2 separate regions of the Homo sapiens genome follow, and region 2 is linked to region 1. The links come from fine-mapping of genetic effects on plasma protein levels. Region 1 holds a variant in brackets. A gene starts in the other region. All regions are shown on their forward strands. Region 1 has its middle 26 kb from the start of IKBKB-DT. Region 2 holds the start of CCL25 (C-C motif chemokine ligand 25).

What was found. PIP is the posterior inclusion probability: the model's chance that the variant is causal. The UK Biobank Pharma Proteomics Project read protein levels with antibody pairs (Olink). The fine-mapping took linkage between variants from a reference panel, not from the people measured, so its PIPs are less certain.
Region 2: it holds the start of CCL25, and the variant in region 1 is fine-mapped to the plasma level of the CCL25 protein (UK Biobank, PIP above 0.99).

The regions. Positions count from the first base shown.
Region 1 is chr8:42,241,558-42,249,885 of GRCh38, forward strand. It overlaps a transcript of IKBKB-DT not described here. Among named protein-coding and RNA genes, the nearest start is that of IKBKB-DT, 26 kb to the right of the region's middle. The variant A/G (reference allele first, on the strand shown) is at 4,303.
Region 2 is chr19:8,047,503-8,055,830 of GRCh38, forward strand. It overlaps CCL25 (C-C motif chemokine ligand 25), which reads left to right and starts at 5,258. Exons shown (of 6, transcript NM_005624.4): 1 at 5,258-5,320; 2 at 5,498-5,620. The coding sequence starts at 5,548. RefSeq lists silencers at 2,811-2,900, 3,201-3,260.

The sequences.
Region 1 (8,328 bases):
GGAAGATCTCACACTGAATGAAAAAGACAATCAACAGAGGCCAACGCTGAGATGTTAGAACTATCTGACAAAGATTTTAAAGCAGTCATCCTAAAAATGCTTCAATGAGCAACTAGAAACCTACTGGAAACAAATGAAAAAATAGAAAGCTTCAACCCTTTGTGGTAGAATAGAGTGGAATTGATAGGGACATATCAGCCCACCTGCTTATAAGTAGCAGTGGTAAAAGTCATGTTAATGCTGGCAGGAGAACACAAAGAGAATGGGTAGAACTGGTTAGTATGGAACTCAAGCTTCAGTTAGATGGTCGAACTAATATTAGAGGAGAGAGGTCAGTTAATATGAAAAAGGGTACCCATTTAAAGTAAGCAGATGGCCTGGCGTGGTGGCTCACACCTGTAATCCCAACAGTTTGGGAGGCCGAAGCGGGCGGATCACCTTGAGGTCAGGAGTTTGAAGCTGGCCTGGCCAACATGGTGAAACCCCATCTCTACTAAAAATACAAAATTTATCTGGGCATGTTGGTGCGCGCCTGTAATCTCAGCTACTCAGGAGGCTGAGGCAGGAGAATTGCTTGAACCCAGAAGGCAGAGGTTGCAGTGAGCTGAGATTGCACCACTGCACTCCAGCCTGGGTGACAAAGCAAGACTCCATCTCAAAAATAAATAAATAAATAAATATTTAAAAATAGACATAAGTAAATAAATAAATACAGTAAGCAGATTATAGCATCATCCCTGTGGTTGGGATAAAGATTCCTAGCATTGAAAAATGGATTTTGAATAGAACTAATATCGTGGGGTTTAGATGCTGTTATTAGCAGAGCTCACCTTATAGCAGTATTTTACACTAAAAATAATAAGGAAATTAGAGATATTAAGGTGGATGTTGTCAAGTGGATGTATCAAGGAAGTAGGGTCTCTATAACCCATAATTAAGGTATAATGAGAATTCTATATATGTGGTTGGTATATTAATTGTAGCTGAGTTCTGTAGAGAGTGGGGAGTGTACTGGTCCATGCTATCTTCTGCCACCCTGTACAGCAACGTCCTCCATTTGGCCTGGTCGCTAGTCATTGACCTCACTTGCTGCAGCATCTGCGGCTGATGCCTACAGTCCTTCCCCGGCCTCTGGCTTGTATAGCCAGGGCCACCTCTGCCAAGTGTCCCCTCATGCATGCTGAGAAGTCACTGCTGGTGCTCTGAGCCTCCCCCAGTCCCTTCTGATGCTCTACAGGGAGCTGAGGGACACTGGCTCTGGCCATACCCAGTGCGATTTCCACATGATGGCTGCAGGACCGGACTTTGTAGTAATGAGCAGGCCACTCAACGAAGGCCCAGATCATAACCAAAATGCAGGGTCTGTCAGTTGCTACTTGCAGAATCCAATTCACAAGCGCGAGTTCTGGTATAAAGTGGCTTTTATTCCAAAGCCAGCTTAGGGGAAGAAGCATAGGCTTCCTGGCTTAAGGGTACGGCTTTGCTCTCGGAGTAGAAAGTGGGCACTTTTAAAAGGCAGGGGAGGAGGTGAGCAGGTTGGGGGTGGTCCTCGTGCCAGCTTAGTGTCTTACCTACTGGGCGGTTGGACTGGCATTTTCATGGCAGAAATGGGTTGTAAAAGTGGCCTAAAACTCTCCAGGTGGGGAGAGAGTTTTGTAGTGGGACTTTGGATTGTAAATTGACTGTTATCTCTCCATGCAGCCTCCTGGTGGGTGAGCGTTCTGCTCTGGAGCATCTAAGCACAGAGTTAGATGAATTTGTAAGAAATATCTGATGAAGAGGAGGTAATAGACTATTATTGCATTTCTAAAGAGCTAAAGTAAGAAGTGGGGAAAAGGAGGAAAAAGAAGAAAGAGAAAAAAATAATTAAACTATTTCTTAGAAAAATTGGGGTACTTGGTTACAGATCTGTGTTCTCAGAACCCCAGAACATCTCTGGAGGTTTTATGTCCCACCACTTCCCTGAGTTTTGGTTAGGATTAATCATAATCTCAACTATTAATTGACATCATGGACAGTAGAAGAATAACTAGTGTAACTTCACGTGAAATTTTTGGTGCTACTGCTTATAGCACTCCATAAAGCCACTTCGGTTTGAAGTTTGGTCAGATGGTAGAATTGAGTTTAATTTAGACGGACAGTACTCACAGGAACCCAGTTTGTAACCGGTAGTGAGTAAGGTCATGTTGTTCAGAACATTAAAATAAGGATAAACAGTTCTGGATTCTGGGTTAATCATTTTAAGAGTCTATGTATTTGGATAAGTTCATTTATTGGGTCGCACAATATTTGAGGTTTTGCAATTGCACATGGTCTAGAATTTTGTTCATACTGGAAAAATTAGAATATAGGTAGAAACTGGCTGAACTCAGATGATGTAGGATCACCTAAGCAGATGTGGATTAATCTACTGCTGCCCCATTAGGGAATTCTAATCTAACTCCAAGCCTGTATGCCCGATTGTCTATACAAACTGCAAAACAAGTTCCTATTATCCTTGGGATAACTGTTTCTGGAAACTAAGCTTTGGTTCCCTCAATTATATTTATGAAAATGTTTCACAAAATGTATTCCTTATTTTATTTGGAAGTTTTGCCATGCTTTGAGGTCATCCACCCAAAATGAGGAAACCCAGGCCCATGTGTTTGTCACATGGATCAGGTAATTTTATTTGAATGGATTAATTATTTTTAAATCTTCAGAGTCTTCCAGTCTTACTTGACACAGGGTAGTCAGTTATCCTATTTGGGAGAAGAAGATCTTGGAACAGAGCCCATTCCGTTTCCCCTTTAGAAAATAAGGGAGGGGGCTTCCCGGGCAGTTCCAGCACTGTGTCATTGGTGGAGATGGTTAACAGACAGACACATACGGAGCTATTGGTTATATTTTGGGTAAACAGACCTGATTTAAGTATGCCACATTCCTTTTACTTCTTTTAATCTTCCTTAAGGTATTCCTGTGCTGATTAATAATAATTTGAAAAAGCAATTGAATTTTTTTTTAATTTTTAGAGATGGGATCTTGCTCTATCACCAAGGCTGGAGTGCAGTGGTGCTCACTGCAGCCTTGACCTCCTGGGCCTAAGTGATCCTTCTGATTCAGCCTCCCAATTAGAGTTTCATTTTATATGTGAAATTGTTAGTTATAAATGGATTAGCTACATTGGGCTGCCGCCTATAATTGGGTCAGGGTTTGGAAAGACCCAATGTCCAAACTGACCACACACAAAAGTGCTATTTCCTATGCCCTACCAGGCTGAACTGCACTTCAGTGCTAGCTCTGTGCTCTAGTTTATAACCTATGGAAAAAGCTCTTCTGTGGCATTTGAGAGACTAGTCTGAGAGCATGTAGTTGCCAAATGATTTACTTTCCAAGGGCTTTTGGGCCCTTTCTTTAGAAATTCTAGTTTGGGCCGGGCGTGGTGGTTTACACCTGTAATCCCAGCACTTTGGGAGGCCAAGGCAGGAGGATCACGAGGTCAGGAGATTGAGACCATCCTGGTCAACATGGTGAAACCCCGTCTCTACTAAAATACAAAAAAAAAAAAATTAGCCAGGCGTGGTGGCACGTGCCTGCAGTCCCAGCTACTCAGGAGGCTGAGGCAGGGGAATCGCTTGAACCCAGGAGGTGGAGGTTGCAGTTAGCTGAGATCGCACCACTGCACTCCAACCTGGCGACAGAGCAAGACTCCATCTCAAAAATAAAATTTAAAAAATAATAATAATAAAAGAAATTCTAGTTTGATGATTCTTTACGTGTTGGGAATACCTCACCCCCATGTCTCCAATGACACCATGAGTTTACAACTTCTGGTGTGATGGAAGCAGAAAATGGGTCAGGACGCCTCAGTCCCTCAGTTCTGCAAACTGATTGTGTTCACAAAGGCTGATTGACAGGCCCCAGGCCATCTGCCAGCAGCTCCCAGGGAGCCACACAGAAATGTGTTGGAGAAGCCTTTGAGCGGTGGAGAATCACACAGCCAGGCAGAGTAACGCAGGTTCTGTCTGAACACACTTGGCATGCATTTGACAGCAAGATAAAGGAAGAGTGAAATCCTGTCTCGAGGGGCTCATTGTTTCATCGTTCTGTAATCATTATAGAATCAAGTACTCTAAAGCTCAGAAAGGAAAGACAGCCCTTAGTTTACAAGACCTGAGAGCCCTTACCCGGAAAATGTACTGAAAAGATAAACATTTTGGAAAGCAGTTGGGCAAGAACTATTACAATATTTATATCTGCTTACTTTCTGAAGCAGCCATTTCACCTCCAGGAACTTCTCTGAAACTCTTGACATATAAAAGG[A/G]TGTTTACTGCAGATACACGTAAAAGGATGTTTATTGCAGCATTTTACAGTAGCCAAAATTGGAAACAATCATAAACAGGGAAGTGGTTAATTAAGAAGTGATACATCAATCCAATGGAATATGATCCTGCTGTTAAAAAGAATAAGATCTGATGCAGAGATATTTTCTTTTATGCTTGTTTTGTTTTTTGTTTCGAGACAGGATCTTGCTCTGTCACCCAGGCTAGAGCGCAGTGGCACAGTCACAGCTCACTGCAGCGTCAACCTCCCAGGCTCAGGCAATCCTCCCGCCTCAACCTCCTGAGCAGCTGGGACTGCAGGGGCATGCCACCATGCCGGGCTAATTTTTGTAGAGTCAGGGTCTCACTATGTTGTCCAGGGTGGTCTCAAACTCCTGAGCTCAAGCGATCCACCCCACTTGGCCTCCCAAAATGTTGGAATTACAGGTGTAAGCCACAGTGCCCAGCCCAGATATAGTTTCAAGATATAGTACTAAGTAAAAAAAAATTGCAGAAAAGTTTATCTCTGTGAGTGACTTTGTCAGAGTTTCACTTTCTATAATATGTTTCTCTATTGCTCTGGTTCCCTTCTCCCCAAAATACATTGTTTTGCACTTTAAAAATATCAAAATGGGAAAGATATGTGTAATAAAACTTATATGTCAGGATCCAGTGAGATGTAGCAGGCCCCTAGCACAGTCAGGCATCAAGTGATGCTCACTAAATCTTAGCTCTACGATATCAGTAAACATCTATGTGCAATGGATACCTTCTTGATCTTGTTGCATAAAACTGCAGAATCTCAGAGAGAAGGGTTAGGAGAAAACAGCTTCTTAAGCAGCTTTTCTACCCTTTGACTATCCCTACATGGCAATTTCAAGTTTTCTAAGGAAGTTGGGACTGGTTTCTTATAGCAGCAGTCCCTAAACTTTTCGGCACCAGGGACCGGTTTCGTGGGAGACAATTTTTCCACGGACCTGGGGTTGGGGTGGGAGTGAGGGGGAATGGTTTTGGGATGAAATTGTTCCACCTCAGATCATCAGGCATTAGTTAGATTATCATAGGGAGCAGACAACCTAGATCCCTCACATGCATAGTTCACAACAGGGTTCCTGCTCCTAGGAGAATCTGAGGCCGCCACTGATCTGACAGGAAGCGGAGCTCAGGCAGCCTAGTGAAGCTATGAGAAGACGGCCACCATCCTTCAGACCCCAAAATGGTAGATCCACCGACAGCTTGCATCGTGTGCCTGTAAAAGCCACAGACAACGCCACAAACACTCAATGCCTGCTTGTGAAAGCAGCTGGCAGTCGGAGGGGGTGGGCTGTACCCTGCAAAGCCACAGGGGTGGAGCTGCCCAAGGCCATGCATCAGCGTGTTTTGGATGTGAGACATGGAGTCAAAGAAGATTATTTTGGAGCTTTAAGATTTAATGACTGCCCTGCTGGATTTCGGACTTGCATAGGACCAGTGGCCCCTTGGTTTTGGCCAATTTCTCCTATTTGGAATGGGAGCATTTGCCCAATGCCTGTACCTCATTGTATCTAGGAAGTAACTAACTTGCTTTTGATTTTACTGGCTCATAGGCAGAAGGGACTTGCCTAATCTCAGATGAGACTTTGGACTGAAACTTTTGGGTTAATACTGGAATGAATTAAGACTCTGAGGGAAGACATGATTGGTTTTGAAACGTGAAAGGGCCATGAGATTTGGGAGGGGCCGGAGCAGAATGATATGGTTAGGCTTTGTGTACCCACCCAAATCTCATCTTGAATTGTAATCCTCAGGTGTTGAGGGAGAGACCTGGTGGGAGGTGATTGGATCATGGGGGCAGTTTCCTCATGCTGTTCCCATGATAGTGAGGGAGTTCTCGTGAGATCTGATTGTTTTATAAGTGACAATTTCCTCTGGGCTTTTCTCTATCTTTCCTGCTGCCTTGTGAAGAAAGTGCCTGCGCTGGGTGCAGTGGCTCACACCTATAATCTCAGCACTTTGGGAGGCTAAGGCGGGTGGATCACAAGGTCAGGAGCTCAGGACCAGCCTGGCCAACATGGTGAAACCCTGTCTCTACTAAAAATACAAAAATTAACTGGGCACAGTAGTGGGCGCCTCTAATCCCAGCTACTCAGGAGGCTGAGGCAGAAGAATTGCTTGAACCTGGGAGGCGGAGGTTGTAGTGAGCTGAGATCTCACCGCTACACTCCAGCCTGGGCGACAGAGCAAGACTCCGTCTCGGAAAAAAAAAAAAAAAGAAAGTGTCTTCTTCTCCTTCCACCAGTAAGTTTCCCGAGGCCTCCCCAGCTATGTGGAACTGTGAATCAATTAAACCTCCTTCATTTACAAATTACTATCTCAGGTATATCTCACACTTTATAGCAGTGTGAAAACGGACTAATATAGGTGGTAATGCTCGCTTGCCCACCACTCACCTCCTGGTGTACAGCCTGATTCCTAACAGGCCACAGACCGGGACCTGTCTTCGGCTCTTGGTTTGGAGACCCCTGTCTTAGAGTATTGATACTACCATTTGTTGTTCTGGCCATTTTTGCCAAGCAGCTGTACAGTGCATATCAATTGCTGGTGATGTAGAAAGGTAGATGTTTTCCAGGAAGCATTGATCTTTACCTTAGAGCCCAATGTTACTGCTCTTTTTACAGAGAGTTTTGATTTTCACAAACATTTTCCATAATGCAATTTGACTTTAATTGGGTGGGTATGCCTTTTTTTAAGAGACCCAAATAGCCGGCTGCAGTGGCTCATGTCTGTAATCCCAGCACTTTGGGAGGCCAAGGCAGGCGGATCATGAGGTCAGGAGTTCGAGGCCAGCCTGGCCAACATGGTGAAACCCTGTCTCTACTGAAAATACAAAAAGTGGCCAGGTGTGGTGACAGGCACCTGTAGTCCCAGCCATTTGGGAGGCTGAAGCAGAAATCAATTGAACCCAGGAGGCGGAGGTTACAGTGAGCTGAGATCGTGCCCCTGTACTCCAGCCTGGCAACAGAGGCTCTACCAAAAAAAAAAAAAAAAACAAATATCCCCTCCAAATTTGCATCACAAAACAGATAAACAAAGGTGTAAATTTTACTATTGCAAAAGGACTCTGCTTCACTGGAAGTTCTTTCAAGCATTCTTTTACACTGGTTCATTTGAAAAGGGATTCACTTTATAAAAATTTGACAATACAACTTTTATTAAACATTTCTTTCACAGAACGAGATTTTTTTATTGGGCCGGGTGCAGTAGCTCACACCTGCAATCCCAGCACTTTGGGAAACCAAGACAGGAGGATCACTTGAGCCCAGGAGTTTGAGACCAGCCTGAGCAATACAGGGGACCCCATCTCTACAAAAAAACTGAAAAATTGGCCAGGTATGATGGCACGTGCCTGTGGTCCCAGTTTCTTGAGAGGCCGAGGTGGGAGGGTTGCATGAGCCTGGGAGGTCAAGGCTGCAGTCCGCTGTGTTTGTGCCACTGCACTCCAGCCTGGGCGACAGAGCAGGCCCCTGTTTCAAAAAAAAAGACAAAATATCCCTATAATTTATATATGCATGTATATATATGTGTGTGTGTGTGTGTGTGTGTGTGTACATATATATATATGTTTTTTTATTAACTGGGACTAAGACTAACAAGACCAATAAACTACAAGACTTTTGATTCTACCAGGGGAAACCTGATGGACTTTCTGAGTCTTAGGATGACATGAGAACCTACAAAGCTCTACTAGAAGGCCATGCATTCAAAAAGGCCCTGGAGAGAAATGCAGAGGCTAGTGCAGATCTCAGGGTTGCACTTAACATCCCTGTGGCCAGGGACAAGTTGCTTCACCGCTGTTCCATTTCCTCATTTGCAATCATGGAAGAAGGATTTTACTCACTGAATTATTTTGAGGATTAAAGAAAACATGTATTATTCTCCAGATGTTAAGACATTATGGGATGGGCACGGTAGCTCACACCTGTCATCCTGGCACTTTGGGAGGTGGAGGTAGGAGGATCACTTGAGCTCAGGAGTTCGAGACCAGCTT
Region 2 (8,328 bases), not on the chromosome of region 1:
CTGTCTAAAAAAAAAAAAAAAAAAAAAAAAGGCAACGAACAGATCCAGGCAGATAATCAGTAAGGAAACATTGGATTTGAAATGCACTGTAGATCAAATGGAACTAATGACATATGTAGAACATTCCATTTGACAGCAGCGGAACGCACATTCTCCTCAAGTGCACAGGGGACATACTCCAGGATAGATCATGTTAGACCACAAAGCAAGCCTGAACAAATGTAAGATTGCCAGGTGCGGTGGCTCACACTTGTAATCCCAGCACTTTGGGAGGTCAAGGCGGGTGGATGACGAGGTCAGGAGATCGAGACCAGCCTGACCAACATGGTGAAACCCCGTCTCTACTAAAAATACAAAAAATTAGCCAGGTGTGGTGGTGGCGGGCGCCTGTAGTCCCAGCTACTTGGGAGGCTGAGGCAGGAGAATGGCGTGAACCCGGGAGGTGGAGCTTGCAGTGAGCCGAGATGGTGCCACTGCACTCCAGCCTGGGCAACAGAGTGAGACTCCGTCTCAACAACAACAACAAAAAAACAAATGTAAGATTGCGATTGTATCAAGTATCTTTTCTGACCACAGTGATACGAAACTAGAGATCAATAACAGGAGGAATTCTGGAAAATTCACACGTGAGAATTCAACAACACTCTCCTAAACAACCAATGTGTCAAAGAAGAAATTAAAACGAAATTAAAAAATATCTTGAGGCCAGGTGCAGTGGCTCACGCCTGTAATCCCAACACTTTGGTGGCTGAGGCAGGAGGATCACCTGAAGCCAGGAGTTCAAGACCAGCCTGGGCAACATAGTGAGACGCTCCCCCCATCTCTACAAAAAATAAAAATAATTAGCCAGGCATGGTGATGCTCACCTGTAGTCCCAGTTATTTGGGAGGCTAAGGTGGGAGGAACACTTGAGTTGGAGGCTGCAGTGAGCTACGATTGTGCCACTGCACTCAGCCTGGGTGATAGAGGGAGATGTTTCTAAAAACAAAATAAAACAAACAGAAACAACAACAACAAAAAACTTGAGACAAACTGAAATGGACATACAATATACCTAAACCAATGAATGCAGCAAAAGTGGTTCTAAGAGGGAAGTTTATAGCAATAAATAAATGCCTACATAAAAAAGAAGAAAGATCTTTCAAATAACCAAATTCTCTTTAAAAAGAGGTAACTGGAGGCTGGGCATGGTGGCTCAAGCCTGTAATCCCAGCACTTTGGGAGGCCAAGGCCAGCAGGTCACTTGAGGTCAGGAGTTCGAGACCAGCCTGGGCAACATAGTGAAATGTAGTCTCTCCTAAAAATACAAAAATTAGCCAGACATGGTGGTAGGCGCCTGTAGTCCCAGCTACTCGGGAGGCTGAGGCAGGAGAATCGCTTCAACCCGGGAGGTGGAGGTTGCAGTAAGCCAAGATCCTGCCACTGCACTCCAGCCTGGGCAACAGAGCAAGACTCTGTCTCGAAAAAAAAAAAAAAAAGAGGCAGCTGTGGGTACAACAGGAGTCCAGGCCTGGCAGACGGGGCTCCTGGGGTGTGGATTGCTCCCTACAAGACTCGTGACCATGCAGGGCAGTGGGGGCCCATCAGAAGCCAAGAGTCTCATCAGGGACCTGGAGGCACCAGAGTTCAGGAGAGCTGCAGGCAGCTGGGGTCTGATATGCAAAAGTGACTACAGGAGGACCCCCACTTCTGCCCATAGTGTTCTCCCAGTGCCCCTGAGCCTTTGCCGATGACCTCCCAGTCATCTGCTCTATGGCGCTTCCCCATTGGGGGACTGTCCTTTTCTTCACAGTATTTAAGAAATAAAAATTAGATTTTCCTGGCCAACAAAAAAAGTAAGTAACTTGGCTTCTCTGACCCTCAATCTCCTCCTTTGCACAGTTGGGCCAATGGTGAGCACCCAGGAGCATCCTTCATCCCACTAGAGGTGCCTGCCACTGGGTAGGGCAGATGTGGTGGTGGCTGGTGCAGGCTTCCCAGAACATCTCATCGCCCCTGCCCACCACCTGGCCACTGCAACCAACTGGGCTTGTCTAGAAAGACACCTGCCTACCCACCCAACCCTGCAGGCTCTGGGGTATTGGTCTCTGAATTTGGCTGAGCTACAGGATGGAGACCACCCTCAACTGCTCCCATCATCAGAGGTGCAGAACAGAAGTCGGTGTGGGGGGCACTTGTTCCCCCCAGCTGTGCTGATTTCACACTGGCGGAGAAGAGGACCCTTGCTGATAGCGGACTGCTCTTTTATTTTTTTATGAGATGGAGTTTTGCTCTTGTTGCCCAGGCTGGAGTGCAATGGCAAGATCTTGGCTCACTGCAACTTCCACTTCCTGGGTTCAAGCAATTCTCCTGCCTCAGCCTCCCAAGTAGCTGGGATTACAGGTGCGCACCACCATGCCCGGCTATTTTTTTTTTTTTTTTGTATTTTTAGTAGAGATGGGGTTTCACCATGTTGGCCAGGCTGATCTCGAACTCCTGACCTCAGGTGATCCGCCCGCCTCGGCCTCCCAAAGTGCTGGGATTACAAGTGTGAACCACTGCTCCCGGCCGATAGCGGATTACTCTTAATGCCCCCAGCTGCTGCAGGAGTGGAAGAGGCCAGTCCAGCCCCGACTGTGAAGGTCTGGCCTTTACTCAAAGCAACTGTGGTCCTCAGAACTCCGGGATCATCCCGTTTCTTGCTCCAACCCCTGGGTCCCAGGTCCCCAGCGCGCCCACCCCAGTGCTCCGTGCTTGCTGGTCCCTGGAGGGCCCCCTTACTGGGAACCCTTCCTCCCCGTGAAGGCTGCCGGCGGGACAAACAGTGAGGGGTGAGGCAGGGAGGGAGACTCACGTTGGGGACCTCCCCCAAGTCTGGGTAACACCGTCTTGGCCGCGGCCCGCGGGTTGGGAAGGTAGGGGGCAGTGAGCCGTAGCGGAGAGGCTGGCCCCAGCCCGCCACGCCGCTTCCCCACGCTCGCAGCCACGCGGAGCCGCGTCCTGGTCCAGCCTCACCCACCCAGAGCAAGAGGCGGAGGAACTGGAACAGCGCCCCGGCCCGTGGGCTGCCACTGGCCGCAGCAACGGGACGGGTGAGAGCACCTGCCCCCGACGCGTCTTAACTGCTCTGGTGGGGCGGGGCTGACCGTGCAAGCCCCGCCCCAGTCTAAGCCCCTCCTACAAAGCCCGGCCCCTTACCATAAGCGCCATCTGTCAGGCTCCGCCCACTGTCTTAAATCCCACTCACTCTGCCCTGCCCCTGACTCGGAGCCATATAGCAAGCCCCGCCCATAGCCATAAGCCACGCCCACCCAGCCCTGCCCCTGGGCTCTAAGTGTCATTTATCTAGTCACGTCCCCGGCTAGAAGCCACACCCACCAGGCCCGGCCCCACCTCTAAGCCCCACTCACCCGGCCATGTGGTTTGGGACAGGGAAGTAGGCTAGGGGCCGCCGCCTCTGGGCTCCCAGTGGAAGGGGAGAAATGAGAAAGGAGTTTAGGATGTGATAAATACCCACAGAGGTCAGATGTAGCTATGGATGCAGGCGATAAAAAGTTTAAAGCAATCAGCTGTGCGGCCTCTGCAGCGCTCCTTTCGCCCTCCCTAATCTTCACCTCGTGTCTCCCCCAGTCCCTGTGTCCTGGCTGGGTCCTGCTGCCCCAGGGAAAGAAGACATGCCTTCTCCCATCCTGGCTAACATGGTGAAACCCCGTCTCTACTAAAAATACAAAAAATTAGCCAGGCGTGGTGGCGGGAGCCTGTAGTCCCAGCTACTCGGGAGGCTGAGGCAGGAGAATGGCGTGAACCCGGGAGACGGAGCTTGCAGTGAGCCGAGACAGCGCCACCGCACTCCAGCCTGGGCAAAAGAGCAAGACTCCGTCTCAGAAGAAAAAAAAAAAAGACATGCCTTCTCGGTGAATGTTGCTTTGCTTCCTGAGGGCATGGCTACCCGGGGCTCCTGGCTTTTCTTCCAAAAACAAAACATTTCTTCCATTTTTTCTTTTTCTTTTGTTTTTTTTTTTTTTTTTTTTTTTGAGACAGAGTTTCACTCTTGTCGCCCAGGCTGGAATGCAGTGGCCCAATCTCGGCTCACTGCAACCTCCGCCTCCCGGGTTCAAGCGATTCTCCTGCCTCAGCCTCCTGAGTAGCTGGAATTACAGGTGCCCCCCCACCACACTCGGCTAATTTTTGTAATTTTAGTAGAGATGGGGTTTTGCCATGTTGGCCAGGCTGGTCTCGAACTCCTGACCTCAGAGGATCCGCCTGCCTCGGCCTCCCAAAGTGCTGGTATTACAGGTGTGAGCCACTGTGTCCGGCCACCGTTTTTTTTTCCATTTTTTGAGACAGGGTCTTGCTCTGTTGCCCAGGCTGGAGTGCAGTGGCATGATCACAGCTCACTGCAGCCTCAACCTCCAAGGCTCAAGCAATCCTCACACCTCAGCCTCCTGAGTGGCTGGGACTACAGGTATGCACTACTACGTCAGGCTAATTTTTTAAAAAATTTTTGTAGTGACGCAGGTCTCTCTATATTGCCCGGGGTGGTCTTGAGCTCCTGGGCTCAAGCAATCCTCTGGCCTCGGCCTCCCAAAGTGTTGGGCTTACAGACATGAGCCACCATGCCTGGCCTAGAGAGTTTCTTTCTTGTTGGGGTTGTTCACCGGTGGGAGGTGCACCATTGTGCCGTGCTGACTATATTCATAGAGTTATGTAACCATCACTCTCATCTAATTTCAGAACAAAAGGAAACCCATACCCTCTCACAGTCAGTCCTTCATTCTCCCCTCCCCCCATCCTGTGGCCACCGCTAATTTACTTTCTGTTTCTATGGATTTGCCTGTGATCACAACCAGAGGATTTCTGTGACATGCTAAGTTACCTAACCATGGTGTGGAAGGAGAGGGAAATGGAGTGAAGTTGGGGACCCACCAGGGAACAGGTGGCTTGAGGGCGGGGGGAGCATGAAGGTAAGGGCTTGTTTGGGGGCTCAAGGCAGTCTGAGCCTTGTTCGCAGGCAGCCAGTGTCCACCAGGTGTGTGCAGGTGAGGGAAACAGGGGAAAAGGCCCTTTCTGGAGACAGTAGGGGTGCTGGCTGGGAGGCCTGGGATGGGGAGTGGGGAGGCAAGGGGGCCTGTGGGTCGAGGTTGGAGCTTGCTGTAGAAGAGGGAGAATTCCAGAGGCTGAGAGTGCAGGTGGAGAGGAGGAGGAAGGGAGGAGGGCGGGCAGGGGGTGGCTGGGTGGGGCTCTGTCTATAAAGAGTGAAGCTCAGCGTGTTGGTCCTGCAGATGGGACAGCTTGGCCTACAGCCCGGCGGGCATCAGCTCCCTTGACCCAGTGGATATCGGTGAGTCTTTTCCTTGAACATGACTGAGATGAACAGCTTTTCCCTCCAGCACAACTTGTTCCTACTTTATACAACCTCCTTCCCTTGCCATATGCCTGGGGCTTAAGAGGGGGGATGTTCCCAGTACCCACTCCCCTCCTCTTCCTCAGTCCTTACCACTTCCCTCCACGACCCCAGGTGGCCCCGTTATTCGTCCAGGTGCCCAGGGAGGAGGACCCGCCTGCAGCATGAACCTGTGGCTCCTGGCCTGCCTGGTGGCCGGCTTCCTGGGAGCCTGGGCCCCCGCTGTCCACACCCAAGGTACTGTGTTCGGCAATGCCTACCACCAAGTGCCCCTCTCCCCATGCCCCCACCCCACCCCTTTTGTCTCTTATCTCCTCCGGAAGTCTCCCCAATCCCATCTCCACTGAATTCTCCCGCTCCTGACATGCAGGAACTCCTGGTGTTTGGTTAGCTCTTGGGATGGGGTCGGGGAGATGGAGAGTCCCCAGTTCCTTCTTCGAGAGCCCCATGGAGTCTTTTGCAAGACTCCTAAAGATGTGAGGGAGCAGAGGGTGGCTTCCAGCTGTGGGCAAAGCCAGTTACTGCCAGGGATGTATTGTAGAATCCTAATCCTGCCGAGCCAGGGGTGGGGTTGGAGATCAGGGCCCTGGAGACTGACAAGAGTGGATTCCCATCCTGGTCCCTCCATGCAGTCCAGCTGAGAGTTAGTTGCTCCTAAACCATTTTTTTTTTTTTTTTTTTGAGACAGAGTCTCACTCTGTCACCCTGGCTGGAGTGCAGTGGCGCGATCTTGGCTCACTGCAACCTCCGCCTCCTGGGCTCAAGCGATCCTTCTGCCTCAGCCTCCCAAGTAGCTGGGACTACAGGCGTGTGTACCATGCCCGGCTAATTTTTGTATTTTTTAGTAGAGATGGGGTTTCACTATGTTGGCCAGAGTAGTCTCGATCTCCTGATCTCAGGCGATCCGCCTGCCTCAGCCTCCCAAAGTGCTAGGATTACAGGTTTGAGCCACTGTGCCCGGCTTCCTAAACCTTTAGGAGCCTCCGTTTCCTCAGCTGCAAAGTGGGAATCTAAAATTCCCACTGCATGGCTCTGACTTGAGGGTCCAGTGAGCTCATGCCTGCAAAAGACTAGGCCTCATGTCTGGCGGCGGCAATAGTAACTGTTCCTGTTATTAATAGGGAACTCTTTCCTTCTTCCCCACTCCCTACCGCAGAGCAAGCACTTGAGGATTTCAGTCGCCAAAGGACAATTCCTGGGCCTGGGGTGTCCCCACGGGAGCCCTGACACTGGGTCCTACATCCTCTGAGTTTCAGCAGCTGGCCAAAGCAGGGTCCCTGGCTGGGCGGCAGACCCAGGGTCCCACCCTCCTTCCCTGTCTGCCCCCACCTGACCCACCTGCCCCTCGGCTGGGTCTGATGGGTCCAAGTCCTTGGCCTTTGCCTGGGAAGGGGGTTGGGCTGTGGTCTGATTGTTTTGCTATCAGAGCCAGGCCCAGCCCAGCCCTTCGATCCTGGCCTCCAGCCTTGGGAACTACCTGCCTGGCACTGCAGTCCGAGGTTCCAACAGAATGCGCTGCCCCTTGCCCTCAGAGGCCGCGGTTGGGAGACACCTGGAGGGCTCGAGTCCTCCCTTTCCCTGCTCCTGCTGGGCTGGGCTCTGCAGGGACTCAGACTCGGCCTCTGGAGGTTAGTTCTGGCAGAGGTGAGATTGCAGAGAACTCCAAAGGCCATTTAGGCAGAGAATTGCACCCCAGCTTCCTCCACTATCTCATCAGCTCATCCTCGGCTCATTCATTCCACCTGCTCATCCCCCCAGAACTTTCTGGCATCACCTCCTCCTCCTCTGGGCACCCCCCACAGTGCCTGTGCTTCCCCCTTTCTGCAGAGATCAGTTTCCCGGGAGCTCCCTGAAGACAACACTAGGTCTAATTCATCTGTGTGTTTCATCTCTGCTTGTCTAGACATTGACATTTACTGAGAGCTCTTTACTTTGTATTAAAACAATTTTTTGTTTGTTTGGTTGGTGTTTTGTTTTGTTTCATTGAGACAGAGTTTTGCTATTGTCGCCCAGGCTGGAGTGCAATGGCGTGATCTCGGCTCACTGCAACCTCCACCTCCTGGGTTCAAGTGATTCTCCTGCCTCAGCCTCCAGAGTAGCTGGGATTAAAAGCGCCCACTATCAGCCAGGCACAGTGGCTCACGCCTGTAATCCCAGCACTTTGAGAGGCCAAGGCGGGTGGATCACAAGGTCAAGAGATCAAGACCATCCTGGCCAACATGGTGAAACCCCGTCTCTACTAAAAATACAAAAATTAGCTGGTCGTGGTGGCGGGCGCCTGTAATCCCAGCTACTCGGGAGGCTGAGGCAGGAGAATCGCTTGAACCCGGGAGGCAGAGGTTGCAGTGAGCTGAAATTGAGCCACTGCACTCCAGCCTGGGTGACAGAGTGAGACTCTGGAAAAAAAAAAAAAAAAGGCGCCCACCACCATGCCTGGCTAATTTTTGTTTTTTGTTTTGTTTTGTTTTGAGACGGTGTCTCACTCTGTCGCCCAGGCTGGAGTGCAGTGGCGCGATCTCGGCTCACTGCAAGCTCTGCCTCCCGGGTTCACGCCATTCTCCTGCCTCAGCCTCCCGAGTAGCTGGGACTCCAGGCGCCCACCACCACACCCGGCTAATTTTTATATTTTTAGTAGAGACGGGGTTTCACCGTGTTAGCCAGGATGGTCTCAATCTCCTGACCTCGTGATCCGCCCACCTTGGCCTCCCAAAGTGCTGGGATTAAAGGCATGAGCCACCGCGCCCGGCCTAATTTTTATATTTTTTAGTAGAGACGGGGTTTCACCATATTGGCCAGGCTAGTCTCAAACTCCTGACCTCAGGTGATCCACCCACCTCAGCCTCCCAAAGTGCTGGGTTTACAGGCATGAGCCACTGTGCTGAGCTGCCAATCAGCTCATTTTTAGGAGGGAAGAACTTGGCTGGGGAGGGGTGGTGTTGGCCCCT